Linked DNA regions of Homo sapiens. The protein of the gene in region 2 interacts with the protein of the main gene of each other region in a pairwise test. Each region holds a gene or a part of one and is shown on either strand. Other genes may lie near its edges. The genes, in order: UBTFL1, TAX1BP1, TNFAIP3 and RAB18.

Region 1 (6,894 bases), on a different chromosome or scaffold from region 2:
GCAGACATCTAATCAGGGAGGGGCTTTAAGGATCCTATAATACACTGGCATCCAAAAAGCAAGTCTAATTATTTTAGAGGCATTTGGAATTTGCTAGACTGTGGAAACCTCAGAAAATAACATCTGTTGTCCAGAAAGCCCAGAGGACACAGAACTCCTGAGCCAAATGCATGAACTTTCCTGCAAGCACTGTTCAGACCAGTTATAGAATATTCAGGTGAGTATTTCCTTTAATTTTTTGTTCCTTGTTTATACAAATTGTGAACTTCTGGAGGGAAAGTCCTAGATATTATACAGTTTTATCTATAGCATGATATCTAGAATTTAATTGGAAACCTTTATTGTAGAATATGAAAAGTTCCATGTTGTCTTTAACTTCAGGTTGAATGCAGCCTTGGTCGTCTGCAAAGTTTTTAAGTGCTCAAAGGCACTTTTTTATTTTCCTAATATTCCACTGAAGTTTTTATTTCTGTCATGGTATTTTTATTTTACAAATCTATTTTGTTGTTTGAATCCTCTTTTTAAAGCCTCTTGTTATTTTTTGATATTTTTATTATATTTAATATAGTTTGATAATAAATATCATACATATGACTTTGTGAAGCTACTATATAAATGTTTATTTTATTTTATTTTATTTTTATTTTCCTTTTTTGAGATGCAGTCTCACTCTGTCACCAGGCTGGAATGCAGTGGCGTGATCTCAGCTCACTGCAACCTCTGCCTCCCAGGTTCAAGCGATTCTCCTGCCTCAGCCTCCCGAGTAGCTGGGACTACAGGGGTGCACCACCATGCCCAGCTAATTTTTGTATTTTTAGTAGAGATGGGGTTTCACCATGTCAGCCAGGATGGTCTTGATCTTTTGACCTCGTGATCTGCCTGCCTCAGCCTCCAAAGTGCTGGGATTACAGGCGTGAGGCTCTGTGCCTCGCCAAATATTTATCTTTTATGTTACAAAAATTTAAAAAACTAACAATTCATACAGCTTCATAAAGTCACAGGAGTTCATACATTTTGTTTAAGATCAAAACTTACTCTCAAATGGTTCAGGAATAAAATGTCTTAAACTTCTAAGTATTTCGTAAGTGATTGTGATAAAAAATGAAAAATAAAAATTAGATGGATTATGACACAGAAAAGGGAAAATCACACAACATTGACAAGGTCAATTTTTTTGAGACAGAGAGTCTCACTCTGTTGCCTAGTCTGAAGTGCAGTGATACAATCAAGGCTCACTGAAGTCTTGACCTCCTGTGCTCAAGCCATCCTCTCACCTCAGCCTCCAGAGTAGTTGGGACTACAGGCACTACAAGTGTGGGCCTGGCTAAATTTTTGTTTTTGTAGACATGGGGTCTCTCCATGCTGCCCAGGCTGGTCTGGAACTCCTGAACTCAAGCAATCTTCCTGCATCAGCCTCCAAAAATGTTCAAATTACAGGCATGAGCCACTGTGCCTGGCCCTATATAAATTCTTAGTTTTCCCAGTTTCTTTCCTTCTTTCTTTCTTTCTTTCTTTCTTTCTTTCTTTCTTTCTGTCTGTCTGTCTGTCTGTCTTTCTTCCTTCCTTCCTTCCTTTCTTCCTTCCTTCCTTTCTTTCTTTCTTTCTCTTTCATTCTTTTTCTTTCTTTCTTTCTTTTTCTTTCTTTCTGTCTTTCTTTCTTGTTTTTGTTTTTTGTTTTTTTTTTTGACAGGAGTCTCTCACTTTGTTGCCCAGGCTTGTCTCAAACTCCTGAGTTCAAACGACCCTCCTTTTGGATCTTAGGCTCCAAAAGTGCTGGGATTACAGGCATGAGTCACCATGCCTGGTCACAGTTTCGTCATATATGTAATGGAACAGCAAGCATAAAATGAGCTCACAGAGTTTTAAGGAGAAAAATAAGATATTAATAATAAATGTAAAACATTTGCATATTAGGTTCCTGGGGCTGCTGTAATAAACTATCACAGATAAAACAATAATTTGCTCTCTCACATTTCTGAATGCCTAACATTTAAAATCAACATGTTGATAGAGTGGTTCCCTTTGGAAATTCTGAGGGGAAATCCACCTCCTGCCTCTCTGCTAGCTTCTGGTGGGTGATGAGAATCCTTGGCTTTCATTGGCTTGTGGCAGCATAGCTCTAGTGAGCTCTGTCTCTGCCTCTGTCTCCACATGGCTGTCTATGTGTCTCAGATTTTCCTTTTATTTTTTCTCTAAGGATACCAGTCATTGGACTTAGGTCCCACCCTAAACCCAGACTAATCTTGTTGGGAGATTACCAAGGTAGTTACATCTGCAAAGATCCTATTTTCAAAAGTCCATATTCACAGGTTTCAGTGGTTAGGACTTAGACATATATTTCGGGGGGCCACTCTTTAACTGGCAATTTGAAAAAAATGTCTGGCTCAGAAAACAGCCCCATAACAACAAAAACACAACTGTATTTTTATTTCCACTGCTTTACGCACATCACCCTAACTTTTACAATTGGGAAGATGGTACTTCTTTTTTCCTAAATTCAGATTCTGAATATTTCACACCTCTTTTCTAATGTCAATTCTATGTTTTTTCCCTTTTTTCTGAGTTAGAATACATCTTGTATTTATTTATTTTTATTATTTATAATCACCACAATATATTTGGAAGTCTGACATTTTTTATTTCTGAACCATTTGAGACTATGTTCTGATCTTAAACACAAAGTATGGAATCCATTATTTTTTCTTTTTTTTAACTTTGATTTGTGAAAGTTACTTTTTTCTTAATTACTCTTTTTATTTGTTACATTACTAAGTTTGTTTTATTTTAATTTTCATAGGACATTGATGAAATGACTTTTTTATGATTTTTGAGATGAAAAATTTAATAACTTTAAATTTTACATTCTTTTAAGTTTTTCACAGTTTATTTTAATGCTTTTTTTTTGTAAATTTTAATTATAGTTATTTATATCTTCATTTATTATGGAACAACTTCCCAAAAGTCTTTTTCACATAATAAATTTAATATAATATATAAGCTATTATTTATTTTCTCTTCTGTCTCAAATATGGACTTTAATTATATTCCAATATTTCAGAACATTTTAATCTATGTTTTGAGACATTTGTGACTTACGTGATATTATGACTATTATTCTTTACACTTCTAGTGAATTTTTAATGTCATTCAAAGGCTACATCCTTCTATACTCTACTGAGAATTAAAAATAGTTCTCAAAAATATTATTCTCAGATATTCAGAACTCATTCTCAGAATTTCAACTTCCACCAGTATCTTAACTCTGTTCTCTTTCCCTTCTAATGCATATTTTCCCCCTGAAGGCCCACTGTTACACTCCTTATTCACCCTCCATTTAAGATTCGGTTTTATTTAATGTTGTATGTATTCGTACACAATTTTATTTATGTGAGGCTTAGTCTTAGAATAGAAGATCATCCTAAAAAGACTAGTGAAAGAGTTATGAGAATTTCAAGAGTGAATCCAGAAATCACGTGCCAGAAGAATTACTTCAGGCAAGACAGAATTGCTAAAAAAAAAAAAAAAAAAAGGAGTAGTCATCAGATCTGCCACATTTTCAAGTTTTGTAATGGAAAATGGCAGGTATTCTGGAGGGAGTTTCTGGAGGAAGCCAAACTTTCACTGAGGCTTAAATATGATGAACAATTAACCAAATAAAGTTGAAATGTTTTATAATTGTCATTAAATCCTTGATATTTAAAAGGAGAAGCAGTATGGTTCTTAGAAAGCATTCATTCCCGGCCCAGGAGTGGTGGCTCACGCCTGTAATCCTAGCGCTCTGGGAAGCCGAGGCAGGCGGATCACCTGAGGTTGGGAATTCGAGACCAGCCTGGCCAACATGGTGAAACCCCATCTCTACTAAAAAATACAGAAAAATTAGCCAGTCGTGGTGGCACATGCCTGTAATCTCAGCTGCTTGGGAGGCTGAGGCAGGAGAATCACTTGAAGCTGAAAAACAGAGGTTGCAGTGAGCCCAGATTGCCCCACTGCACTCTAACCCGGGCGACAAGAGTGAAACTCCGTCTCAATTAAAAAAAAAAAAAAGAAATAAAAGAAAGCAAGAAAGCATTAATTCCCATGCACTGGTCCTGGAGAATCTATAATTCAGTCTTTTATCACAGGTTCACATTCCCTTATAAAAAGGTAACAGTTGGATGCATGTCTGGAGGAGCTCTTGGGCTTGTCCGATTGTATCTTTAACTTCTCATCTGCACCTTTAGCTATGGCTATTTGGGCTGTGCTTAGAAAATGGCCATACTCAGGGCACTGTAGAATGAACAGTCCTTCCTGTTTAGGCATTTCTCCTTCCACTTTAACTTCTGACTCTGTCTTCAGGGCATTTCTGTTATATTAAGCTTCTTAAGTGATGAGTGGTCTGGTGTTTGTGTTATGCAACTCAATTTAAGATAGGTTCATGTGAGATCTGGCAGAAAGCAGGCTGGGGTGGGGTGTGGAGATACTGAATATTGTGCATGTAGCATATGAAAGGCAAACATAAATTTAATTCAGAAACAGGCAATGTTTATTTATAGTTAAGGGTCAAATGAATTATACAAGGGACATATGACAAATAGGATGTAATTTGCTTCATTAATCCAAATGAAGGAGAGTAACTTTCTTTCTCCTCAGAAATACAGAATCACACATACTGCAATACTTCCAGAAATAAATCATCCACTGAGTCTTAAAAGTAAAGAACTCTGTGTTCTTGCTCTGGTGTCTACATAACCGGGATCTTATAAGTAAGCCAAAGACATCTAAATGGCTTTGCCTAGAAGCCAAGGCCATTGGTCCAACAAAGACATCTTGAGGTTACTGGAATGCATGGAGAATAATCGCCCATCTGATGACAACAGCACGTTTAGCTCAACTCAGTCACACATGGACTGGGGAAAAGTAGCTTTTAAAAACTTTTCTGGTGAAATGTGCAGACTCAAATGGTTAGAGATTTCTTGCAACTTGAGAAAATTCGGCACTTTGAAAGAATTAGTCCTGGAAGCTAAGAAATGTGTTAAAAAGATGAACAAAAGCCAAAAATACAGGAACGGTCCAGACTTTCCAAAGAGGCCCCTTACTGCTTACAATCGCTTCTTCAAGGAGAGTTGGCCCCAGTACTCCCAAATGTACCCTGGGATGAGAAGCCAGGAACTGACCAAAATCCTGTCAAAGAAATACAGGGAACTCCCAGAGCAGATGAAACAGAAATATATTCAGGATTTCCGGAAGGAAAAGCAAGAATTTGAGGAAAAACTTGCTCGATTCAGGGAAGAACACCCTGATTTAGTCCAGAAGGCCAAGAAATCTAGTGTCTCCAAGAGGACTCAAAACAAAGTGCAAAAGAAGTTTCAGAAAAATATTGAAGAAGTGAGGTCTCTTCCAAAAACGGATCGATTTTTCAAGAAGGTAAAATTTCATGGAGAGCCTCAGAAACCCCCCATGAATGGATACCACAAGTTTCACCAAGATTCCTGGTCAAGTAAAGAGATGCAACATTTGTCAGTGAGGGAGCGCATGGTAGAGATTGGCAGACGCTGGCAGCGCATCCCGCAGAGCCAGAAGGATCATTTTAAGAGCCAGGCTGAGGAGCTGCAGAAGCAATACAAGGTGAAATTGGATCTCTGGCTCAAGACTTTGTCACCTGAAAATTATGCTGCATACAAAGAATCGACCTATGCTAAGGGTAAGAATATGGCCATGACAGGAGGCCCGGACCCCAGGTTGAAACAAGCAGATCCACAGTCCTCATCAGCAAAGGGTCTGCAAGAAGGGTTTGGGGAGGGGCAAGGGCTCCAGGCTGCAGGAACAGATTCATCACAGACTATTTGGGTAAACTGTCATGTCTCCATGGAACCAGAAGAGAACAGGAAGAAAGATAGAGAAAAGGAAGAAAGCAGTAACTCTTCAGACTGCAGCAGTGGAGAAGAAATAGAAGTTGATGTCTGAGGGCAGTGGCTCTAGTGCAGCTTCCTTGTTTTTTTTTTTTTGTTTGTTTGTTTTCTTTTCTTCCTTCCTCCCGCAAAGTAGGACAGGTTGGGAAGAAAGAAGCAACTTGGTGCAGCACTCTCCTACATCAAGATTATGAACCTGGGAGGAACTCTTTGGGAAGAATAAATATAAGTTTGAGCCAATACTGGCCTTATCCTTAAAAAAACAAACAAACAAATATCATCCCTTTCCCGAGGAACTTTATGCAATTAAGGCTTCTGAAATGAAGAGATGATTACGTTGTGGGGTACACACTGTATTAGACTGAATATTTCTGAAGCAAGAAGCTTTGCTTTACTCATTTTTGTCCTGCCAAAGGTGGTAGGGGGATACCCATAAGCCTGGGACCCAAACTTCCCTGTGGAAATGTTTTTCAGGACTCCTGCACTAAATCTAAGGTCGGGGATATTTGATGAAAGGTGGGGTAGGTGTCTTAAGAGAATTGTCCCACTCTTGATATCTCTCTCCTCCCCTCCCTGAAGTAAGGAGTTGGCCATTCCCATGCCTGGGAGTAGGGAGTAATATTTCTACATGTATATCTGACTCAGTTCTCAATTAGACTTTTCTTGCTTATTTCAAAAAAAAAATGAAAATACAAAATAAAAAGTTACTGATTTAATCTGAAAGAGCTCCTCCACAGAATCATTTGTGACACTGGGTGCAGCTTCTCTAAGTTATATCTTCATTTATTCTTGAAGCTCCAAATTTTTCCTGCTGCTTCAGGTGCAAGTGAATCTCACCTTTAGCATTCAGGATTGATACAAAGATGTAGAGAAAGACAGATATAGATGAGTACACTATCCTGTTTCACTATCTGCTCTATCTAAGAATTCATGCACCAGTGTCACATTGTTTTAATTTTTTGGTTTACTAATATGTTTGAAAATCTACCTAAAGTTAGTGCCTTCT
Region 2 (7,679 bases):
TAATGAAATTATAGCTATGGACTCTAAGTTGGATACTGAGGGAAGTATTAAAAAAAGAAATGGATTGAGATGCTGATGAGTTTGAAAAATAGTTCTGCTGGGCATATTTGAATGAACAAGTTAGAAGAATAGGAGATTGTGGTCAAAGAGTAGGAGGCTTGCTTTTCAAGATGATGGCAAGGGCCAAGGTGTGACCACAGAAATAGGTATCTGGAGTGGAGTATTTGAGATGAGGGATTCAGGAAATTAAAATGCTGGGATGTTGGCCTTTTCATTTTAATCTCATCCAAGTAGACAATGAATGGCTTAGAATGGAGGAGACTGTGCACTAGGTGACACTCTTCACTGAATGAGGAACAGTGACTTGGAGATCAGAAGACGACAGCCACAGGGAGGGAAGACGGAGCATAACACAACAGTGTATATCTCAAAGGAGCAAAGGTGTGTTACAAGCACCTAGGTAGGTAATGATTGGGAAACAAGGAGCAATGAATACATCAATAAAATCTAACAGACAGGGAAAGAGAAAATCAGCCTATTTTAGAGTGTTTGGAATCCTCTCTTTCTCTGCCTATCCAAAGCCTACCATTATTCAAATCTCATTTTTAAAGGCTCTCTTTTTAGATTGAGACCATCCTGGCCAACATAGTGAAACCTCGTCTCAACTAAAAATACAAAAAAATTATCTGGGTGTGGTGGCATGCACCTGTAGTCCCAGCTACTTGGGAGGCTGAGGCAGGAGAATCACTTGAACCCGGGAGGCAGAGGTTGCAGTGAGCCAAGATTGCGCCACTGCACTCCAGCTTGGGTGAAAGAGTGAGACTCTGCCTAAAAAAAAAAAAAAGCTCTCTTTTTAAAACAAAGGTTTACAAAGGTGTTTTTTTCTTTTTAATTAAGAATCATTTATAACAAAAGGAATCTTTAATACAAATTCTAATGTAAACCATTGTTCTAAGAAAGGAGAACAACTCATTTGCCTGGCTTTTAAAACCTGTAATGTTTCTAATAAAACATGTCTATTTGAACTTTTTCAAAAATTTTCAATCCATGTTTTGCTATCTAGTTGTCCCATCTGTGCCTTTTAAATTATATTATTCTCACTATGTAAGCCTTTTTTTCATCTTTTCAAATCTTATCAGTCTTTTGAAGTTTAGAGACCAATCTCTTTTACAAAGTCTAGCTAATTTCAAAATTAATTATTCTGTATATCTTTCTACTTTATTTCTCATAGTCCATTTCCTTCAAATTTGACAGTTATCTATACCATCCGGTAACATCTTGACCTGATTTTAAGCAGTTTCAGGGAAGAAACCATGCTTGATTCCTTGTTTTTCCCAGAGCACATAGTAAATGAACAAAATGCTCTTATTAAGAAGCGACATGACACAATGGTGAATGAATGAACTTTGGAGGAAATTATTATTTTTGGTTAACAATTTTCTTCTTGCCTGATTCCCTTGCCCAAGCTCTTAAATCCTGACTGGAAAGTCCTCCTCCTCCATCTCCTCATCGAAATCATACCTCACTTTGACAGTCTAGGCCTGCCTCCCCCATGAAAAGTGTACTGCTAACATAAGCCTGTACTTTCTCCCATCTCTGAATATCTGTCTTCCTATTCATTTACACTTTAGTTACCTACATTTTCATGGGCTCATTTCTTTTCTTCCCTTTGCTATCATAAGTTCCTCTAATGAAAGAACAGTGCCTTTTAAATATAGTCAGCATATTTTCCCAATCAAACACAGGACAACTGCCTAGAAACTACTTGACACTGTAGTTGCTCCAGAAAAATCATGGGTTACTCACTGATTTACTTTCCAATAATTCTCTCAATATTCACCACTTCGAAATCTAAAAAGCTCTGAAAATTGGCCAGGTGCGGTGGCTCATGCCTGTAATCCCAGAAGGAGAATCACTCGAACCTGGGAGGCAGAGGTTGCAGTGAGCCGAAATCTTGCCACTGCTCTCCAGCCTGGGTGACAGGGAAGAGGGCAGAGACCCCGTCTCAAAAAAAAAAAAAAAAAGAAAAAGCTCTGAAAATCAAATGTTTTCTCAACATTTGGTGGCAAAACCTGTTTGACCTGACTCATTTGTCATTAAAACTTGACCTGAACCCAAGGGCAAAGTGGCAGAACCTGACCTGAAAAACTTGACTTGAGTGAGACTATACATTTCATTTATCTTAGTGTGATATTCATAATTGTTCCGGAAAAAAAAGTTGACTGTGGGTGCTGCCCCAGATAGTGAGGAATGTCACATAAAGCACACCTCTCTAAAGTCTGAAAAATTCTGAATTCTGAAATCCATCTGGCAGAAAGATTTCACTTAAAGGAAGTGAATCCATATCTCTTCTAGCCATAGTCCACTGCCATACAAATAAGAGGCTAACTTTAAGAAATTCAATTAAAGCCGGGTGCGGTCTCTCATGCTTGTAATCCCAGCACTTTGGGAGGCTGAGGCAGGCAGATCACCTGAGGTCAGGAGTTGGAGACCAGCCTGGCCAACATGGAGAAACCCCGTCTCTACTAAAGATATAAAAATTAGCCCAGTGTGGTGGTGTGCGCCTGTAATCCTAGCCACTGGGGAGGCTGAGGCAGGAGAATTGCTTGAATCTGGGAGGTGGAGGTTGCAGTGACCCGAGATCATGCCACTGCACTACACCCTAGGTGACAGAGCGAGACTCTGTCTCAAAAAACAAACAAACAAAAAACCCAAACCCTACTCCCCCAAAACCCAGAAATTCAATTAAATACTAAGAGGGTATCTATTTATCTTGGTGGGAAAAACTTGGTCTAAAAATTAAAGGATCATTATTAAAATGAATGAAGCAAGCTAAAATTCCAGAACAAATACCTTCCTGGGGAAAATAAGGTCTAAAAATTCAAGAAATAATTAAAAATAACAAAGTAAAAATACCTGTGAAAATGTCCTTTGAGACCAGCCTGACCAACACGGCGAAACCTCCTCTCTACTAAAAATACAAAAATTAGCCAGGCGTGGTGGCTGGCTCCTGTAATCCCAGCTACTTGGGAGGCTGAGGCAGGAGAATTGCTTGAACCCGGGAGGCGGAGGTTGCAGTGAGCCGAGATCGCGCCACTGTACTGCAGCCTGAGCAACAAGAGCGAAACTCCGTCCCTCTCAGGGCAAAAAAAAAAGTCTTTCAATTATGGTTTTTATTAAGCATACTGTTTTTCTGATTTCATTAACTGAAAATTAGTGGTAATTAAAAATGTATTACATATAAATAGGAATGTGATTTAAACAAAGAGTGACATCTCTGACAAATTGTGCTTATAAAATTCACTGCTATGTTTACATTTCTTAAGGGACACAGTTATTTCTACTACCAGAAGGTTGCTACCAGTAACGCAAGTGATAACTTATGTTGATTATTCACACCGTTTTCTTCATCCATAAAATAAGGAGACTGGGACTAAATGGCCTATTAAGGTTCTTCTGAAATTCTATGATCAAGTATAATACCCAGCACAAGACCAAGTTCAAAAATGTCAATACACAGGAAACAAATCAGTCTGTAAATATTGAGAACCTATGTTATCAAAGCTAATGTCTTCTGAAATAACTGGAAGTAAAGATGAAAGTATATGAAAGATAATTTTGAATGTTCTGTATTTAGAATGTGCTTCAACATTTAATGCGATCTAATTTACATATCCTTTCTGGTGCTATTGCAAGGTTTGTCAGGGTTTTACGGCAACAGAAGACTATGATGAATTCGAATGGGACACATTTGCTTCTGTGGAGTTACGATTCAAACTGAATGTCCAATATAGGAAGGCAACATATACAACAAGCAAAAGTGATTTTAGAAATAACAGAACGCGGGAGAAAATTCACACACGGAAAATGATACGGATAACAAAAGCAGGTAACTCACAGAAATGCGGCTAGAAAAGAGGCCTCTGCTGGAGCGAGAGCAAATAGAATCAGAGGGCATTAGAACTGAAAAGCTCCTAGGAGCTTTCAGTGAACAAAACTTCATAGCCAAAAAAGCACACGACTGGGCCAGGAGTTCAGAGACAGTCTTGGTGCTCAGGGGTTTGCAGCCCTAGCCGTGTGGTCACTCCCTTGCTTCTCTGGCTATTTCCTTATCTATAAAATGAGTGGGCTAGTTTAGGCCGACTGAGACGCAGACAGGGATACGGTACTGTCCATGGACCTCTGAGCTGCCCTTTCCACATCGCTGGTGAGTTACTTAAACCTCCTGTGTGTTTCCCCCTTTCGTATGTCAAAATAATAACATAAAATCAGAATGTAAATCCAGACGCATTGTTTTGCTGCGATTAAGTTGAACGAAAATAGCAAGGACGAAGTAAGGAGAGAGCCAGCCTACCCGCGGGATGAGGCGTCCCGCGGCGGAGTGGGCTGGGGGCGTGTCGTCGCGGAGGGGAGCGGCGAACCAGGCAGGAGGCGGAAGAGACCGCCCCGTGGGCGGAAGTGACGCAAGGCCTACTGTCGGCTGGGAGGGGAGGTGTAGCCGGTCTTTGGGGGTAGGCGGTAGTGGCGGAAGAGGTTCGGCGGCTGATGGCGGATCAGGATCGGAAGCCTGCGTAACTTTCTCCCTTGATCCGGGAGTCTTTCCACTGGGTAAGGCGCCTCCCCGGTCCACCCCAGCGCCTTGTGCGGGGCGGCCTCCAGCTGCATCTCTTTTAGGGCTCGTGCTACACCCTTCAGCCCCTGTACTGTAGGGGCCTGGCCGGTCTCGGGAGAGGTCTCTGTGGTGACGAGGCTTTCCTTCCCGAAGACAAACCTTCCTTTCCAGACTGCGATTGTGACGGGGGTGTGGGCGACTCGGATCAGCTGTGGAGTTTTGGAATGGCAACGGGTGGCCGCCCCACGCGGTGGGAGGCCCGTGGGACAGGCCTTCGCGATTTGGGGGAGGCGTGTGGGACGGGGGCCCTTTGGCTGGGGACGAGTGACGCTGGCGACCCCCGAAGGAAAAGCTTCTGGTGTCCAAGGCTAAACTCTGGGGTGACTGTTTTGAGGGCAGTGTGGGTTTTACCGGCGCAGTAAGCTGAGAAAACACGTAGGTCGCGTCCGAGAAGGACGCTGGGGTTTGCCTTTGCGGAGAGAAACCCAGCTGTTTTGGTTTGAGTCGCCGGTGGCGAAGGGGGCGGAGACTCCCTGCGCCGCCTACTTTTGAGGGCCGCGGGCGGAGTTGGCGGTTCTGGCTGATGGCCTGCTTCACCTGGAATCCATTCCCCACCCCGCCCCGTTCGCAAGGTGTGGACTAGTCCCGACCGACTTGCACTCCTGGCTTAGGGAATCTGTGGCTAGAGTTTAGCGTGCGCGCGCGCGCGTACACCTTATTAGTAAAAAATTGAGCTTAGCGTGCGTCTGTGTGGGTGTGTGTACACACCTTATTGGTAAAAGTTTTGTTAGAAAACACTGGCATTTGACTTTAGACATACACAGTGTTAGATTTCCGGTTTCACACAGTGGTTATGAATTGCTATTATGTTAGGCTTTAGATGGGAAAATAAATCTTGATTTTTCAGCTGTCTGCATTCTGCTAATGTTAAAATTTCTACGAGCTGTGCACGAACAATTAATAGTTACAAGTTTGGTGCTCAATTCCTAAAGGATTTAAAGAGATCATTTGAATAGAAACTAAAAGTGGGTCGATCGTCCTCAAAGTGCTTTTCGGGTTTAGGGAAGGAGCTTAGGACAGCCTTTCTCTTTCGTTCTGTTCCTTTCAAGGGTAAACTTGAAGGATTGTTTGATGATGCCGACTTCTAATAAGGTTTTATTTATTTTTCAAACTGATTGTTCAACTTCAAAGAACATTGTAGTTTTTGTTTTCTAGTCATCACGTTCTTTTTTTTTTTTTTTCCTTGAGATGGAGTCTTGCTCTGTCTCCCAGGCTGGAGTGCAGTGGCGCGATCGCGGCTCATTGCAACCTCCGCCTCCCAGGTTCAAGCGATTCTCCTGCCTCAGCCTCCTGAGTACCTGGGATTACAGGCGCGCACCACCACACTGAAGGGGTGGGTTGCCCCTCCACACCTGTGGGTGTTTCTCGTTAGGTGGAATGAGAGACTTGGAAAAGAAAAAGACACAAAGTACAGAGAAAGAAATAAGGGGATCCGGGGAACCAGCGTTCAGCATATGGAGGATCCCGCCAGCCTCTGAGTTCCCTTAGTATTTATTGATCATTTGTGGGTGTTTCTCCGAGAGGGGGCTATGTCAGGGTCACAAGACAATAGTGGGGAGAGGGTCAGCAGACAAACACGTGAACAAAGGTCTTTGCATCATAGACAAGGTAAAGAATCAAGTGCTGTGCTTTTAGATATGCATACACATAAACATCTCAATGCTTTACAAAGCAGTATTGCTGCCCACATGTCCCACCTCCAGCCCTAAGGCGGTTTTTCCCTATCTCAGTAGATGGAACGTACAATCGGGTTTTATACTGAGACATTCCATGCCCAGGGACGGGCAGGAGACAGATGCCTTCCTCTTGTCTCAACTGCAAGAGGCATGCCTTCCTCTTATACTAATCCTCCTCAGCACAGACCCTTTACGGATGTCGGGCTGGGGGATGGTCAGGTCTTTCCCTTCCCACGAGGCCATATTTCAGACTATCACATGGGGAGAAACCTTGGACAATACCTGGCTTTCCTAGGCAGAGGTCCCTGCAGGCTTCCACAGTTTTTGTGTCCCTGGGTACTTGAGATTAGGGAGTGGTGATGACTCTTAAGGAGCATGCTGCCTTCAAGCATCTGTTTAACAGAGCACATCTTGCACAACCCTTAATCCGTTTAACCGTGAGTTTGACACAGCACATGTTTCAGAGAGCACGGGGTTGGTGGTAAGGTCATAGATTAACAGAATCTCAAGGCAGAATAATTTTTCTTAGTACAGAACAAAATGGAGTCTCCTATGTCTACTTCTTTCTACACAGACACAGTAACAGTCTGATCTCTCTTGCTTTTCCCCACACATACCCGGCAAATTTTTGTATTTTTAGTAGAGACGAGGTTTCTCCATGTTGGTCAGGCTAGTGTCGAACTCCTGACCTCTTGATCCGCCTGCCTCGGCCTTCCAAAGTGCTGGGATTACAGGTGTGAGCCACCGCACCCAGCCCATCACGTTCTTAAATTGTAGACCGCTGTTTATAGTTCTCACTGCAGCCATGTTTGTAGAATTAACCAGCAAATACCTTTTCCATAACAAAAGTAAAATTTTGGAATTCAAAGTTTCAACCTTTTTAATAATGTTAAAATAATCATGAAAGATCCTAATGATGCTCCTTGTATACTTCTTTTGGGGACTTTGTTGTATTCTTTTGGAATGGATATGTTAAATCTGGGCTTTATGCATTTCTGTCTTTTTAAAGCTTATTTTGTCCCAAATAAACCTTTAGAAGAAGATAAAAATGTCCTCTACCCTAATATGTGTGGGCCAATATCATAGCATTTTAGAAACCAACTTATAAAAATCTAAAAAGTAAATAAAAGTGGTGCGGGTGATACCTGGGCGGAATGTCTTGGCACTCAGGTGTAAAGGATTCTGGAAATAGGGATGTCTGCAAGGGTGCAAATTAATAGACTGGGGCTTTTGCTGTTGCCTCCTAGAAAAATTGCTGATTACATTTTTTGGGAGCAGAGGTCTGTTGAGAGTTGTTAGTCTTTCTTTTTTTGAGCCACAGTGTGAATAAT
Region 3 (7,528 bases), on a different chromosome or scaffold from region 2:
AATTACTTTCCCAAGTGTTTCAGCCAAGTGTTGACAGGAAATAAAACAGAATTCACAGGGATAGTGGATTTTCTGACAAGTTTGAGATGTCAGCATCGCACGCTTTCAGGCAAAGTGCAACAGAAGGAACTGTACTTGTCATTACACCAACTGCCTCCTTCCCAGTGGAGGGTCTTTGATCCTGGTACTATGACTCACTGGGTCACTAAGGACTTCAGTTGTCCCTCCACCATGGTGGGTCTTGGGTTTCTCCATTCAGTCCAGATAACACATGTAAAGGATCTGAGGTCCCTAGATAAGAAGCAACATTCAGTAGAATTTGGCATTCATAGGATGATGAAATTTATGACATCATTATCCCAGTTCTCACGGTTATAATCCACAGAAAGCTTCTCTTTATTCTCAGAACTAGCCCTTGTAGTGGCCTTGAATGTGCAAACGTTACCCTTTAGTAATGTTTGAGGCAGAATTTGAAAATCTGAAACATGATTCAAAGCTACCCTACAATAACTAAGCTGCCATAGTTACCTAAGGCTGCTTCCCAATATGTTTTCTATGAATCTGCCTTTCCAATAGAGCACAGTGCAGGGAAAAGGGGAGGGGGCAATTGTACAAAAGACACAAAAGGTCCAGTTTTAGTTTGGCCCATGACTGCCATGCCCTGGAATTCTGTACAGTCTCAGAAAGAGAGTGTCACTGATTATTAAAAATACATAATTTCTTCTTTTTTATTTTTTTAATTTTTAGAAACATGGGTCTTACTATGTTGCCCAGGATAGACTCAAACTCCCGGACTCAAAGGACCCTTCCCTCTCAGCCTCCCGAGTAGCTGGGACTGCAGACGCATGCTAATTAACAATCAACAACCAGGGGCCAGGCGCGGTGGCTCACGCCTGTAATCCCAGCACTTTGGGAGGCCAAGGCGGGTGGATCACGAGGTCAGGAGAATCGAGACCATCCTGGCTAACACGGCGAAACCCCGTCTCTACTAAAAATACAAAAAATTAGCCGGGCGTAGTGGCGGGCGCCTGTAGTCCCAGCTACTCGGGAGGCTGAGGCAGGAGAATGGCGTGAACCCGGGAGGCGGAGCTTGCAGTGAGCTGAGATCGCGCCACTGCACTCCAGCCTGGGCGACAGAGCAAGACGACGTCTCAAAAAAAAAAAAAAGAATCAACAACCAATCAACTGTTGCTGATTCTTGATTAAGAAAGGCTCATGAAATATGTTTGAGCTCAGCAGGGTCTCCTCTCACTTGTCACACGTGGTGCTCTCTTTCATCAGGTTCTTCCTGCTCCCCCCATCTGGGCAAGCACATCTTTTTTACTGCATGGTACAGGGATACAGGCTGCAAGCACAGTCTCACGGGAACCGTTTAATTCCAAGAGGTCATGTGTGCTCATTTTACATAGTTCATGACCCATAAACCCCAGCATTGGTGTCAAAATGGCACGTAACTTAGGAACTCTCCAAAAATATTTCACATAATCAGAATTCCTTTTTCATCTAATAAGGAGACATATTTTTTCTCCTAAGTGTCTACTAAATGTTAATAAATATTCTCTTCTTTAAAGAGTTCTGTCCATCTTGACAAGGCCTATAGCTCAAATTAAATCTCCTTCAAGGCTTTTCAGCATTCTATATCTCTTTGGTTTCAACTTATTCAACAAATCTCCCCAAATTGTATTTCTCCTTTTTTTCATAAGAAGGCATTCCATCTATACTCTCTCCTTCTCTTCTTTTCTTTCCTTCTGATTCACCAAGAAAATTGTCATTGGTCTTGTCCATGTGTTACATAATAGAAGGGGAAAAGGCAAGGGTACAGCCCAACACAGCGCTGATTTAGAAGGTGGAAAGGACAGTAAAGACCGCCTGGTGGTGGGAGTGGCAATTCACAAGCCCAGCAGTAGAATCATGGAAAGTGGAGTTCGAACATAATCCAGGGCTATAGACCACTCCTGCATCTGACTGCTATTACCTTGTCACAAATCCTGGCAGGCAAGATGACAAAGCAGTTACATCAGGACAGTTGGCAGTGGCAGGTATGAACGTGGCCCCTCAGGCTTGTCACTCCTCTTTACTGCACTCCCAGTTCATGACACCAGACAGCAAGACATGAGCCAGATAGGGGCAGTGGAAGCTGCAGGAGGATTGAAGTCATGGAGCCAGAGATGAGAGGAAACAGGCCAACTCTGTTTACAAAGGAGCACCAGCAGGAGAGTGGTGTGAGGATTAACATTCCATGCAGGGTCTTTCAGATACATGATCTTCTTCTGCCAGCTCAACTGAAACCCAGGAGGTTTCCTGAAGGTGAAACCAAGACCCTTCTACCTCTGAAGCCGCATTCTGTCTAAGGTCCGTGTTTGGCTGTTTTGAGAGGCTGGGAGACAGGACACCAAAAGAGTACCTGTCTCACAGGATCTTTCCTGAGAGGAATGGTCTAGTAAGACTGGTCATTATGGGCTTTGGAGTAACACAGGCTTAATGCCACTGGCGACTCTGCCCCTTTTGGTTGTGGAAACTGGGCAAATGCCTCAAGCTTCTTAACCTTCATATAAAAAGCATATATAAGCATATAGCAAGTACTTGATAAATGTCATTTTAGACCCTGTCATTTCTGCTAGCCCTGGACTCCAGCAAGGTCCATTTACAATGGATAGCTGACTATCCATTGTTTGAATGTTGATAGCACATTTGTGAACAAGAAGAGAGGACAAATAACAAGAGGTTTGGAACTGGAAGAAATTCCAGCCATCGGTTTTAAAAGACGAGGACCAGTCTTCAGAGAGGCCACTAGTGACACTCTGCTCCAAACTTCTTTTTGCCAAAAAAGTGCCACCCTCCATCCAGCCCCCACCCCCATCTCTGCAAGTCCTTACTGGCGAGAGGAGGATACTTTTCTAATTAAAAACCTGTGATATATGGCCTGACAAGTATTCTTAAATGTAATTAAGGGGACCATAGTACAGAATATTTCCATCCGGTTCTAGTTTAGCCAATCTAGTAAATGATCCAAAGGGTCCCGTGCTTAGAGGGCAGTAAGACAGTAAAAACGCCCTAAGACTCCTCCCTGCACAGCACCTGCACCCCCACTGCCCAGGGGGCTGCATCCATCTCCACATGACTCACCCTCCCTGTGCAACGCATGGGGGTAGGGAGGGAAGCGCCAGTATTATCAGCCATCAGCACCCTGGGGTGAACTGATTATCAGGACAACTAAAAACACACCTAATAAAGCCTTGGAGACACATGGCAAGCACCGTGATGGACTAGAAGCGATTTCTAAGCTGAAATGCTGCTTTGAATGCAATGTCAGCTGGATGCTTGGTGAGCAGAAATAGACAAGGGGAAATGGAGCAAGCGCGGCATAGGGGTGAGTGTTGTTCTGATTCCTAAGTTTACCTAAGACTGGGGCCACGGGGTCGGGTGTCCCCTGGGACCTACGTCTCATGCAGCCTGGGGTCCAGAGCTGGCAGGAACAATGGAGATGGGGACCAAAGGCTGTCACCGCTGCTTTTTCTCGAAATGCCCGCCCGGGTCCTGTCTGGGGCTCCCGCCTACGCGCTCATCACGTGCACAGCCCAAACTTTTCAGAGCCGGCCCGAGGCCTGCGGGCCCGGGCGCCAGGGTGGTTTTTAGGGTTTTCTTTCTTTCTTATTTCCCTTCTTCTTCTCCACAGTTGATGATTTTCTGCAGAAAAACAACTGCGAAAAAGAACCTATTTCATTTCCAGTTCCCATCACCGCGATTTCCACATGGATGTGACGTGACCCCAGCTTCCGAAATGCCCAGGTGACTCACGCGGGGACACCCCGGGGCGGGGCGAGGGAGTTTCTCCGGGCGCCTGCAGGGACCGGGCGGGGCGGGGCAGCGGGGCGGGGCAGGGAAAGGGGGCGGGGCGGGGCCCGCAGGCCCGGTCGGGCGGAGGCCGCGCGCGCCCCTCGCCCCCTGCGCCCTCTGGCGGCCGGCTGGACGCACTTCGCAGCCCGACCCAGAGAGTCACGTGACTTTGGAAAGTCCCGTGGAAATCCCCGGGCCTACAACCCGCATACAACTGAAACGGGGCAAAGCAGACTGCGCAGTCTGCAGTCTTCGTGGCGGGCCAAGCGAGCTTGGAGCCCGCGGGGGCGGAGCGGTGAGAGCGGCCGCCAAGAGAGATCACACCCCCAGCCGACCCTGCCAGCGAGCGAGCCCGACCCCAGGCGTCCATGGAGCGTCGCCTCCGCCCGGTCCCTGCCCCGACCCCCGCCTGCGGCGCGCTCCTGCCTTGACCAGGACTTGGGACTTTGCGAAAGGATCGCGGGGCCCGGAGAGGTAACCGCCGCGCCTCCCGGAGAGGTAACCGCCGCGCCTCCCGGAGAGGTAACCGCCGCGCCTCCCCGTGCCGTCTGCCTCGGGCTCACCGCAGTCAAGGGCTGCGGGTGCATGTTGGGCAGCGACCCCCGGGCTGGCACCGTCTACCTGGCGTTGGTTTTGCAGCGCTCCTGGACTGGGAGTTTGTTGGACGTTTCTGTCTGGGTTTTGAAGTGCTGGGAGTTGAGGTCACTGCTGCAGAGGTTGGAGTGACAGCCCTGGATACCTCCAGCCAGCTGTTCCTTTCAGATAATGCACGGAACTTAAGCTGCAGCTGACTGGTGAAGAGGCGCCCCTCGGGCCCTCCGATCGGGTGGTCGTTGGCGCTTTGCTCCTTTCGTGTCTTTTTTGGAGCCAAGCGTTGCATGCTCATGGCCACGTAGACCTTGCAGAAGCGCTGCGGCTTTTTCCCAAATTGTGCAGGACCAGCCCGACGGGGCGTAGGGTACCGCAGTGGCCGCCAGCCCGGCGGAGGTGGGGGGCTTCAGTCCCAGAGACAGCTTCCCAGACGCTCACGGGTCCTTGCAGGGGGCTGGGGTCCTGGCGCGGGGTTCAGCTTTTCCAGTAGCAGCAGTGTAAGAGAAGTATGCATGTAGACGTGGGTCGCTGGCCCCTGCTCCAGCCCCTACCCCACGGTTAGACTGTCTTTGTCAGCTGGAGTCGTCCCACATCCTGCCACCTGGCCTCTCAGAAAAGCAGTGGCATTAAGTAAGGAAGGAGCTTAACTCTTTTTGAGCCCGCTTTGTTTTCGGTTCTCCTCGCCTCAGATCTTCTTGCCTTGGAAAGCCAGTCTGGTCAAGTGTCTCAGGGTAGCATTTTGGCAGAACCATTGTTAATTAAAGGGACTTCTGGACCGCAACCTTAATGTACCAGATTATTGAGCAGCCAATGAATGCTTCATTCTCATTGTTTAAGGTGCTGCTTTGATTTTTTTTTCAATTCTTTGTACTATTTTTGATTTTTTGGAGAGGCACATCCCCAAATTTGGATGAGGTATTTGTTGATAAATAATTCATCAATTTCCACAATGCAGACAAAAATGTCTGCCCAGAGTGGAAAAATAAAACAAGGGGGAGAAGAGTTTGAGTAACGGAGAAGTTCTGTGGAATCCTAGTGACAAAAGTTGAGAAACTACCTTTAAATAAGACAGTGAGGTAACAAATGTTAAAAAAAAAAAAGTTAAGGGTAATATTGCATTGTTTGCCACTTATAACGTATCTGAAACATTTGTTCTTTAATCTTAAGCGTAGAGTGGTCCAAGACCTGGAAATCTGGGCAGTGGGTTTTGATTTCTAAGGAGGCAGTTTTACAGGCTGTGCAAGGCTAACCCTACCAATGAGATCACACTGGCGTATCCGATATTGACATTTGCATGTCTTGCCTATGGTTTACAGCTCTCACTATTTTAGATCTTTGGTGAAAAATCTTTAGATTCAGAAGAGAAAAATAAAAGAGTCAGGCAAGCAAAAAGAGATAACACCTCATTTGTTTAAAATCTTCCTACTGCCCATCTCTTTCCATCTGATTGTGGCAGGCACTGTAGCCACAGGTTTGGTGTTGTGGGATTGCAAGGGGCAGGTATTGAAAGACCTGGCTCCTAGGCAAAACTTTGCCCCTGAATGGCTGTGGGATCTGAGCAGTACCTGTAACTCCATTGCCTTAGCTGCAGACTAAGGTGGTAGTGTAATTTCAGGGAAGGGAATAAGGTCATCTTTGACTTTTAGTCCCATCATCAAGCATGGTGATTGGCCTTCAGTAGGTGGTCAGGTAGTGCTTGTTGGGTGGATGGGTGGATGGATGGATAGATGGATGGATGGATGGATGGATGGATGGATGGATGGATGGACGGACGGACGGACGGACGGATAGATGATATTGTGAAAGAGACTTTTGCTGTGCCACAAAGGAAAGGTATATGTGTTATTTTTATCCTGCTATGATTTTGCCCAATTCCACCTGTAGAGGACGTCTGACATCAAAAGAGAGCACCATCTGATCCAGAGAATGACTCCCACTATGCCTTTCCCAGCAATCAGATTAAGAATCCCAATCTAAAACTATCACCAGAAAACTCCTCAGGAGAAACCATGGGTCATCTAGTCCAACCTCTCTCCTTTGAGTGGGCCACAAGAATTATCTCAACACCTTATCAATGGTGTTGAGAGTCTAGACCCACACAGAAGTAGCTACCCTAAAATCTAGGTTTCTTCTCCTCCCTCTTCCATAGGTTTAACATTTTTATTAACTGGAAAGTTGCCCTGGCAAATAAGATGTTGCAGGAATGGAATTAACAATCACTGTGAAATTTCCTAGGGAATGTCTTTGTGCTCTGAAAACTTCTTCATCTTCTTGGAAATTAGGAAGTGTGGCCAGACACCCTACTAAGGGCTAGTAAATCACAGCTGGCTTTTTACAGTGTTCCACACTGGAGAGATCCTACATCATGTTAATTTGCATCATCCTGCGCTGTTGGCATGGGTTGTAGATGCTGGTCTTTGCCACCTTTCCTCCTTCATTTGCCAGAGTGGCCTCCTGGTGGAAACTTCTTTCCTTGTCTACTTCTAGATTTTCATTCCTTCTACTAGTTGATTATGCTTAAAGATTTCAGGGTGAAAAGCCAGGCAGACTTGCCTCTGTGTTGGTACCTGGAGGGTGATGATAAAATTTCATTGGCAGTTGAGTTAAAATGATTGAGCTCCAATATCTGTTCTTAGAAGTATAGAATTTATTGTTCTATTATTATTTTGCGGTTTTTCATTTTTTGTTTTCGTAGAGACCTAGGTCTCACCGTGTTGCCCAGGCTAGTCTCAAACTCCTGAGCTTAAGTGATCCTCCTCCCTCGACCTCCCAAAGTGCCAGGATTAAAGGCATGAGCCACCATGCCTAGCCTATTGTTAGTCTGTTTCTTATTCTGATATGAAGTCCGGTGCGGAGGTTCTGAAGGAATGCTGACTGCTCTTAAAATTGCAAAGCATCTTGCTGGAAATGGACTTTTTTATTGATTAGAAAACATTCGGTTTTAACTCTTTATAAACATCAGAATAAACTTCATGATTAAACACTTTATAAATACTTCTCTTTGGGGCTAAAGAGGAAACACCAACCAGCAGCCTAAGTGACAGCATAAAATTGCAAGATTTTTCATAAAGTATTTTACTGTCCTTCCAGCATAGGGAGG
Region 4 (7,646 bases), on a different chromosome or scaffold from region 2:
AAGTATTCTCACTAAAATGTTAATAGTTATTTAAGAGTAGTGGCTTTTCAAGTGGTTTACTTTTTTTCTTCCTTATGCAAACAATCTATTACTGATGTAACTAACTTGACGTACGAGCACCTCTGTAAATAAGAAAAACACACACATTCTCACACTACTTATATTTGGTTGCAAGAAAAAAGAAAATCCAAGTCAAATTGCCTTCAACAAAAAAGGAATTTATTGGCTCACATAAGTGAAAGCTGAGAAATAGATCTCAATTCAGGTCCAATTTGATCCAGAAGTTCCCAAGGGCTCCAATAGACTCCCTCTCACCCTGGTACTGCCTCAGGCTGGTTCCTTTATATTAGAAAAACGAGCTGCAGCAAGTTCAGAATGTGACTCCTCCCAGCACACTATCTCCAACAAGATGTCTTCAATTGCTCCTGAAAAAGCCTAGGCAAACATCTTTATCTCAGTAGTCTGGTCTGGGTCAGGTGCCTACCCCTGAACCATTGCTACTGGGGAAGTGGGGCACTGCTAAAAGGTAACTGGGTTAATCTAGAAAGCCGAGGGTGTGACAATGCCACCCAAACCACATGCCAATTGTTTGCAGGGGTGGGGGTGGGGGTGGTATGGTGGGAGAAGGAAGTAGGTGCTGGATCGGGCAGCCACAGCACACACAAACAAGAAATTAAAGTCAGTCACAAACATATCCAATAAAATATTAAAAGTACTCAAGCTCACTAGTAATCAAAGAAACACAAAAAAAACTACGTAATTTGTTGCTTCTCCGGTTAAAAAAGAGGAAAAAAAAAAAAAGCAAGAAATAACCTGCATGAGAAACGGTAAAGGGGACAAGACTGAGAACAGGCATGAACACACGACTATTCAAAATATGTGTGTAGGTGTGTGTGTGCTTACATTCATTGAACAGCTTTAACTAAGGGGCACTTAAGCAAACTTTATACCACAATCAGAAACATGACTGATTCCCAAGTATGAAACAATAAGCTAGCAACAAAACAGTAAAATGTAAAGCCCCATCACAGTAGTCCTCCAGCATGATAGATGTTCCCAACTGAGGAGAGAAAAATTAAAAAAAAAAAAAAAGACCTGGGTGATTCTATATTCCTTAGCCCCTAGTCTTGACTTAGCTAGCCTGTCTATGTCTATTTATTCTCGTCTTTCAACAGTTTAGGCAAAACCCAGGGTGAAGTCTATATAGTTGAGTATACACGGCAGGGTCGGAGTCAGAACAATGTCTTCTGAAAGCTGAATAACGTTTTTACCCCTATACTTAACTAGGGAAATACAGGAAAGACAAAATAACTTCCTAAGTATTACTAGTGAAATGTACCCCCAAGAAAGAGAAGCATAATGCTTGAATATGGAGAGGATCTCTGATCTATAATACCTGAAGAATTGTTGAGTTCATTTGAAAAAAATACACAGAAAAAATATGTATTAAGTTGTACTTAAAGACACTATGGTTATTAGGTAAGTCTGTGCCAACTCACAGGCAGAACAAGTACTGGTGTAAGAAGGATTCTTTTATGAGCTATGGTGCTAGCCCCACCCTTAGTAGAGAATCATGTCTCTTGACCATGCAAGCTACGATGAATCAAAATCAAGTCTATTTCCACAACACTCAGCTAGAATGTCAACACCAAGTATGAGTTTATGGATGGCAATCAAATACATGAAATGAAAACATCACCCCAGATTTCAGTTTTGAGCAAATTACTGTTTCCATAATTTCTATTCTCACATAAAAAGTGAAGGTACCATAAGTCCCCTAACTTTGTACCTTTTCTAAGTCAGGATTTTCAGTCCACTCTGAGCAGGTGAAAGAAATAAGACCACCTACTCCACTACCTTAACTTTTATGTCACATGACTTATGAGGTAGGTTTACATCATGGGATTTACTCTATAACCCAAAAGTGTGAAATACTTCTATTACATATAACAAAAGAGTGATAAAGAAATAGTGGAACTGCCTTAACTTGGTTGTGTTACAAAAAGCTGGTAACTAACTACCCATTGTAAAATGAGCGATGGTGAAGAGTATGGGCTCAGAAGTAAAAATGCCATGACTGGAATCCAGCTCAGTGACTGAGTAGCTATGTGATCTTTGGGGGTTACCTAACATACCTACATTGTGTTGTCCTCACCTTTAAAATGGGCATAATAGGAGTACTAATCTCTTAAGGTTGCTGTGAGGTTTAATGAGATAATTCAGCACTTAGAAAGGCATCTGGCACCAAGGAAGCTTTCAATAAATATTAACTATTACTCAGAAATTGAATAGTTTTTTATTTGTTTGGGTCAATCTCAGTACTACTAGAACTCAAAATACTATATTCTAATTGTTCTAATTTGTACCATCTGCAAAAGACCCTTTAAGACTGCTTCAATGATTCTGAAAAGAATTAACAAAACCCTGTTACTAGGTGCCTGACCTTAGATATTACAACTGTTTCATTTACAAAACCTCCACTACAAAACACTAAGCTTGCAACAAAACAACAAAATGAAAGCCACATAATTTGAGTAACACAATAGTACATATTCTTCAGCTGATGAGAGTAATAGGGAAATGTATATACTTCCTACACAAATGCATCTAGGGAAAGCAGGCTATATTTATTCAAGAACTAGAAAAAGGTTACAATATAAATCTATCAAACAAAATTCATTTTTGTTATATTCAAGTAACTCATATATATTCAAATTTAGACCAAATCAAGACAACAATCCAATACACAGATTATTATATAGCTCAAGGAGCAAAAAACAACAGTCTTGTCAATACAGACTCTACATAAATACACAAATCTCAAGTTTTAATATAACATGAACAAATCACAAGTACATGTGTTAGTGTTCTTTCTCCAAATTTCTAGTAGTAAATCTTGTATATTTAGTAAAAGCATATAGAATGTATAAAACCTTCAACCACATGTAATGTAGACTAGGAAGTGTAAATCAAGTAGAATGTGAGGTTTTTATATGTAAAGATGTACATTTCAGAAAGAACCCAACATGAAGTAAATTAACAAACATATTGCAAAGGTGGTCACTCACAAAAATGCTTATCATTTGCAATTGTATACAGAGAACAAACTGCCCAGAAATTAATACTGGAATCTTACTGAGGGGTATTATAGTAACCAACCTTAAAGGACAAATAACTTATTTGGGGGGTTAAAATAGCAGAGATCAGTGTAAATTAAATAACACATGAATGAAAAAAATCTACAATATACAATAGCAAGAGGTGAGAAAACTGAATACTGTGAAAAAGATTTATTAGTCTGTACAAGTTGGTTTTGATGAACTACTGGTTACTTGTTAAGTAAATTGTCAAGATTTTCATTGTGACAGTATTTTCCCTCACACATCAGAATCTGGAAGCAATATGCCTTTTTCAAATTATCACTTAGTGTTTTTTTTCCCCACCCCTCAAAACACAGAAATAGGTTTTTGAATATCAACTAGCCATTATGGAAGCCGTAAGATACAGATATTCATCAACATTACACAAGCTACAGTTAAGGTACCTGGACAAACACTACCAACATTTATGAAAAAAGATGTTGGTTTTAAAAGTGTATGAGGAGTTACAATAAACACACTATTCATGTCCTCCTGAAACCAAAATGGGGGAAAACCTTATTGTCATTCTGCCAAACACCACATAACTAAAAATGCTGCACAGTCATGAATCCAATGTACATATCACAGGATTAAAACTCCAGTTAAGCAACTGAGCTAATCATTGAAGTAAATTAAAAATACCAAGCTTCTTTAACCTATCAATGCTGTTTTAGAAGCATCATCCGAACAAATAGAGATTTAGTTATAAATTGGCCTGGGCTACATTCTGTGATGAGAATTTTGCTTAGTACTAAAAAAGAATCTCAAACATCCCAGAAAAGCTGTGGAATCATGCTCTTTATTATTCCTGAAAGAAAATTTGCCACGTTTGATGATACCTCTATTCTTCCCCGTGGTGCTAGGAGTTCTAAATACCAAGTAATTCAGAAAATGATAGGAGTATTTAAGCAAAAAGAATAGCAAAAGCAGACTTTGTATCAACATATCCTAGATAGATGGATTTTTTTAAAAATTACATGATAAATGTAAATCATAAAATTGAATGTACTTATAAAGGTACACCTATTTTGTGCTACATAAAAAAACTGTAGACTGCAAACTGTGCATGCTTACCATAACATTTTACCCGGGGTCGATGAGTGGGATTTCTTGCAAATATTTACTGCTATGATATAAAACAATTATGTGCAAACTGCAAGGTCCCTAAAATAGCAGTTAAAGAGTTTATATACAGAAAGATGTCACTATCTGATCAAATATGCAAGAGATGGAATTTCCCAGAGTTTATAACACAGAGCAATAACCACCACAGGCTCCTCCTCCTTGGCCTTCTTCCCTGTGTGACAGTTTGACTCCTTTATTCTGGTTCTCACTTTCCCACAGTCCAGGGGTCTGAATGATCTTTTCAACAAGTTCTTCAAAGGCACATTGTACACCATCACAGGTTTTTGCACTTGCCTCTGAAATTCAAGGAAAAAGGTCATTCATAGTATATTCCTTTCTGGCCATATTCTCATGTTTTTCTGGGAAACTATCAGGGCATAAATATCAGCCTACAATATATTAAGATCCAAATCAGCAATTTTTCCCCAAAGGTCAATAACTAGTGAATTTCCAAATCTCAAAATTGAGCTAATTAAATTCTATCCATAAGAATACTAGTATATAATTTTATACCAAAAAAACACTGGTTTATAATCTTAAAACTGTGATAGAATTGTAACTTGTAAAGCCCTACTTAAATAGCGAGCGAAAGTTTTTTCCTTAAGCTTTCAGTTAACTCTTACAACTTGCTCCCAAGGCAGATATTATTCCTATTTTAAAATAAAGAAATTCATACAAGTTAAACAATTAATCTGATTATTCTGTGCCTTCAACCAAGCAGCTCCAGGCAGCTGGACAAAATGACAAACCACCATGAAAACTGGTCCCACAGCAAATGTTTGCTCATGAAACTCAACTGGACACTCAGCACTGCTTCCAACCCTGCGTTTCCTTAGTGATGATCTTTCTCACCGTCTGAGATGAGTACTTTATTCCTTCCTCTCAAAACTCTATCGCAGCTAATAATCTAGCTGCATTATGCTGAGAAAATCAGAAGCAATCTGGCAAGAACTGCCTGATCATCCCACTAATAAATTTACCAAGCTACCTGCATATGTATCCTCATGCTCTGCTTTCCCTCCTGTGAGAATGGATAAACTGTCCCTGCTGCTATCCAAGCCATCGCCTTCTTTTGTTCCTGGAGTCCCATCCCTTCTCATTCACCGAAGGACCAAACGCTCTCTCTACTGGATCATACCAATCAGCCTAAAAGTCTGCCGAATTATTTTCCATCCTATTAAAAAACAAACTTGCTCTCTAGGCCACATGCCCTTCTTGTAGCCACCCATTTCTCCACTCTCTTTGAAACCTCTTCTAAAGAGTTATCCACATAAGCTGTTTCTACCTTCTTATCTCACGTTCTTTCTTCAAACTACTCTAATTAGGCTTTCATTCCCACCACTCCACTGAAATCATTCTTTTCCAAGACCACCAACACCCTTTATCTTGTCAAATCCAATATCCTAATTTTATTTGACATCTTTGGTATCTGATACTGCTAATCACTTCCTCTTCTTTTAAACAAGTTGTTCCCTTGACTTCCAGGACACTGAACATGCCTGAAAATCCTCTGAGCCCACTGACATGTCATGTGCAGCCTTGTTTGCTGGCACTTCCTCTTTCTGCTGACCTCTAATTGCTGGAATCCCCCAGGGTTCAATCTTCTGCCATTTTCTTTGTTTTGTTTTGTTTTTGAGACAGGGTCTCACTCTGTCACCTAGGCTGGAGTGCAGTGGGAGCTCCACTGCAGCCCTGGCCTCCCAGGCTCAAGTGATCCTCCCACCTCAGCCTCCAGAACAGCTGGAATCACAGGCACATGCCACTATACACAGCTGATTTTATTTGGAGATGAGGTCTCACTATGTTGCCCAGGCTTCTTCAGCCCTTTTCTATCCACGTTCTTTCCTGAAGTCACCACTCTAATCACATGACCTTGAATGCCACCTAAATGCCAATGACCACCATGTCCACCGGTTATCGGAAAAATGTCTCATTCTTATGTCAAAGTGAAATTCTTGATTCCTCACTTCCCTACCCTAAACCTGCTCTTATCTCAATCTTTCACATCCTAATTATTGGCAGCACAATCTACCTCACTGCTCATGCCTAAAACATGGAGTTATCTCTGATTGCTCTCTTTTTTTTTTTTTGAGACAGAGTCTCGCTCTGTCGCCCAGGCTGGAGTGCAGTGGCGTGATCTCGCTCACTGCAAGCTCCGCCTCCCAGGTTCAAGCAATTCTCCTGCCTCAGCCTCCCAAGTAGCTGGGACTACAGGCACCCGCCACCACGCCCGGTGAATTTTTTGTATTTTTAGTAGAGACGGGGTTTCACCGTGTTAGCCATGGTCTCGATCTCCTGACCTCGTAATCCGCCTGCCTCGGCCTCCCAAAGTGCTGAGATTACAGGCGTGAGCCACTGCACCCGCCTGATTGCTCTTTTTAATTATCCTCCATACCCAATCCACCCACAAATCCTGTCAGCTATACCTTCACTGTATCTCCTAGAACTGCCAATTTTCTACCACCCTCTACGGCTACACAGTCAAACCGCTTCTTCCTTCATCTGGGCCACTGCAAGAGAAGAACTAGTCTCTTGCTTCTGTTTCCCCTAGTCCATTTTCTACACAACAGGATCTTTTTAGAGTATCAGGTCACACCGCTGCTTCCCTACTTTCCACCACAATTGGAATACAATCCATCTCTTTACCATTTGAATGGCATCTCTCACCATCTGCCTTCTCCTTAACACACTCTATGCTCCAGTACACACGCTTTCTTCCTGTTCCTTTAACACAGTAGCCTGATTCCCACCTCAGGAAATATTTGCTCCTCTCTCAGCCTGAGATGATCTCCCTCTAGACTAGGGGTGTCCAGTGTTTTGGTTTCCCTGGGCCACATTAGAAGAAGAAGAATAGTCTTGGGCCACAAATAACATACAATAACACTAATGATAGCTGGAACTTAAAAAAAAGCACAAAATCTCATAATGTTTTAAGGAAGTTTACAAATTTGTGTTGGGCCACATTCAAAGCCATCCTGGGCCACATGCAGCCCATGAGTTGGACAAGCTTGCTCTAGATCCTCACCTGAGGGATTTCTGCTCAAATGGGACAGCCTCTAAGAACTTTCCCTAAGCAGTCCCCACTCCAGTCATTCTCTCTCCCCTTATAATGTTTTATTTCCTTCATAGCACTACTTACTTATTTAAGTCTGTCTCCCTTACTAGAATGTAAGCTCCATGTGGGCAGAAAGTTTGTCAGTTTTGTCCACTGTTACATCTTGAGTGTTCAATAAATATTGGGTAAACTAATGTATGGAAATGAGGGACATACAGCAAGTAAAAGTACTCGATTCCTTTCTGAAAATCTCAATACTTTCCACTAATTCCATTCTGTTTTTATCTATATATGAAGTCCTCTCAACTTCATTTGCAGATTCCTGG

What was found.
Region 1: the proteins of TAX1BP1 (region 2) and UBTFL1 interact in binary tests that used the Homo sapiens proteins (3 or more experiments, as listed by UniProt).
Region 3: the proteins of TAX1BP1 (region 2) and TNFAIP3 interact in binary tests that used the Homo sapiens proteins (3 or more experiments, as listed by UniProt).
Region 4: the proteins of TAX1BP1 (region 2) and RAB18 interact in binary tests that used the Homo sapiens proteins (3 or more experiments, as listed by UniProt).

What each region holds. Positions count from the first base shown.
Region 1 is NC_000011.10:90,081,189-90,088,082, forward strand, and holds UBTFL1 (upstream-binding factor 1-like protein 1), read left to right. Parts: upstream 1-4,761; coding exon 4,762-5,943; downstream 5,944-6,894. UniProt on the Homo sapiens protein: Essential for proliferation of the inner cell mass and trophectodermal cells in peri-implantation development.
Region 2 is NC_000007.14:27,735,662-27,743,340, forward strand, and holds the start of TAX1BP1 (tax1-binding protein 1), read left to right. Parts: upstream 1-4,500; 5' UTR 4,501-4,608; exon of another isoform or gene 4,609-5,014; intron 5,015-7,679.
Region 3 is NC_000006.12:137,863,184-137,870,711, forward strand, and holds the start of TNFAIP3 (tumor necrosis factor alpha-induced protein 3), read left to right. Parts: upstream 1-4,075; 5' UTR 4,076-4,359; exon of another isoform or gene 4,360-5,058; intron 5,059-7,528. UniProt on the Homo sapiens protein: Ubiquitin-editing enzyme that contains both ubiquitin ligase and deubiquitinase activities.
Region 4 is NC_000010.11:27,534,791-27,542,436, reverse strand, and holds the end of RAB18 (ras-related protein Rab-18), read right to left. Parts: intron 4,562-7,646; coding exon 4,386-4,561; coding exon of another isoform or gene 4,346-4,385; 3' UTR 198-4,345; downstream 1-197. UniProt on the Homo sapiens protein: The small GTPases Rab are key regulators of intracellular membrane trafficking, from the formation of transport vesicles to their fusion with membranes.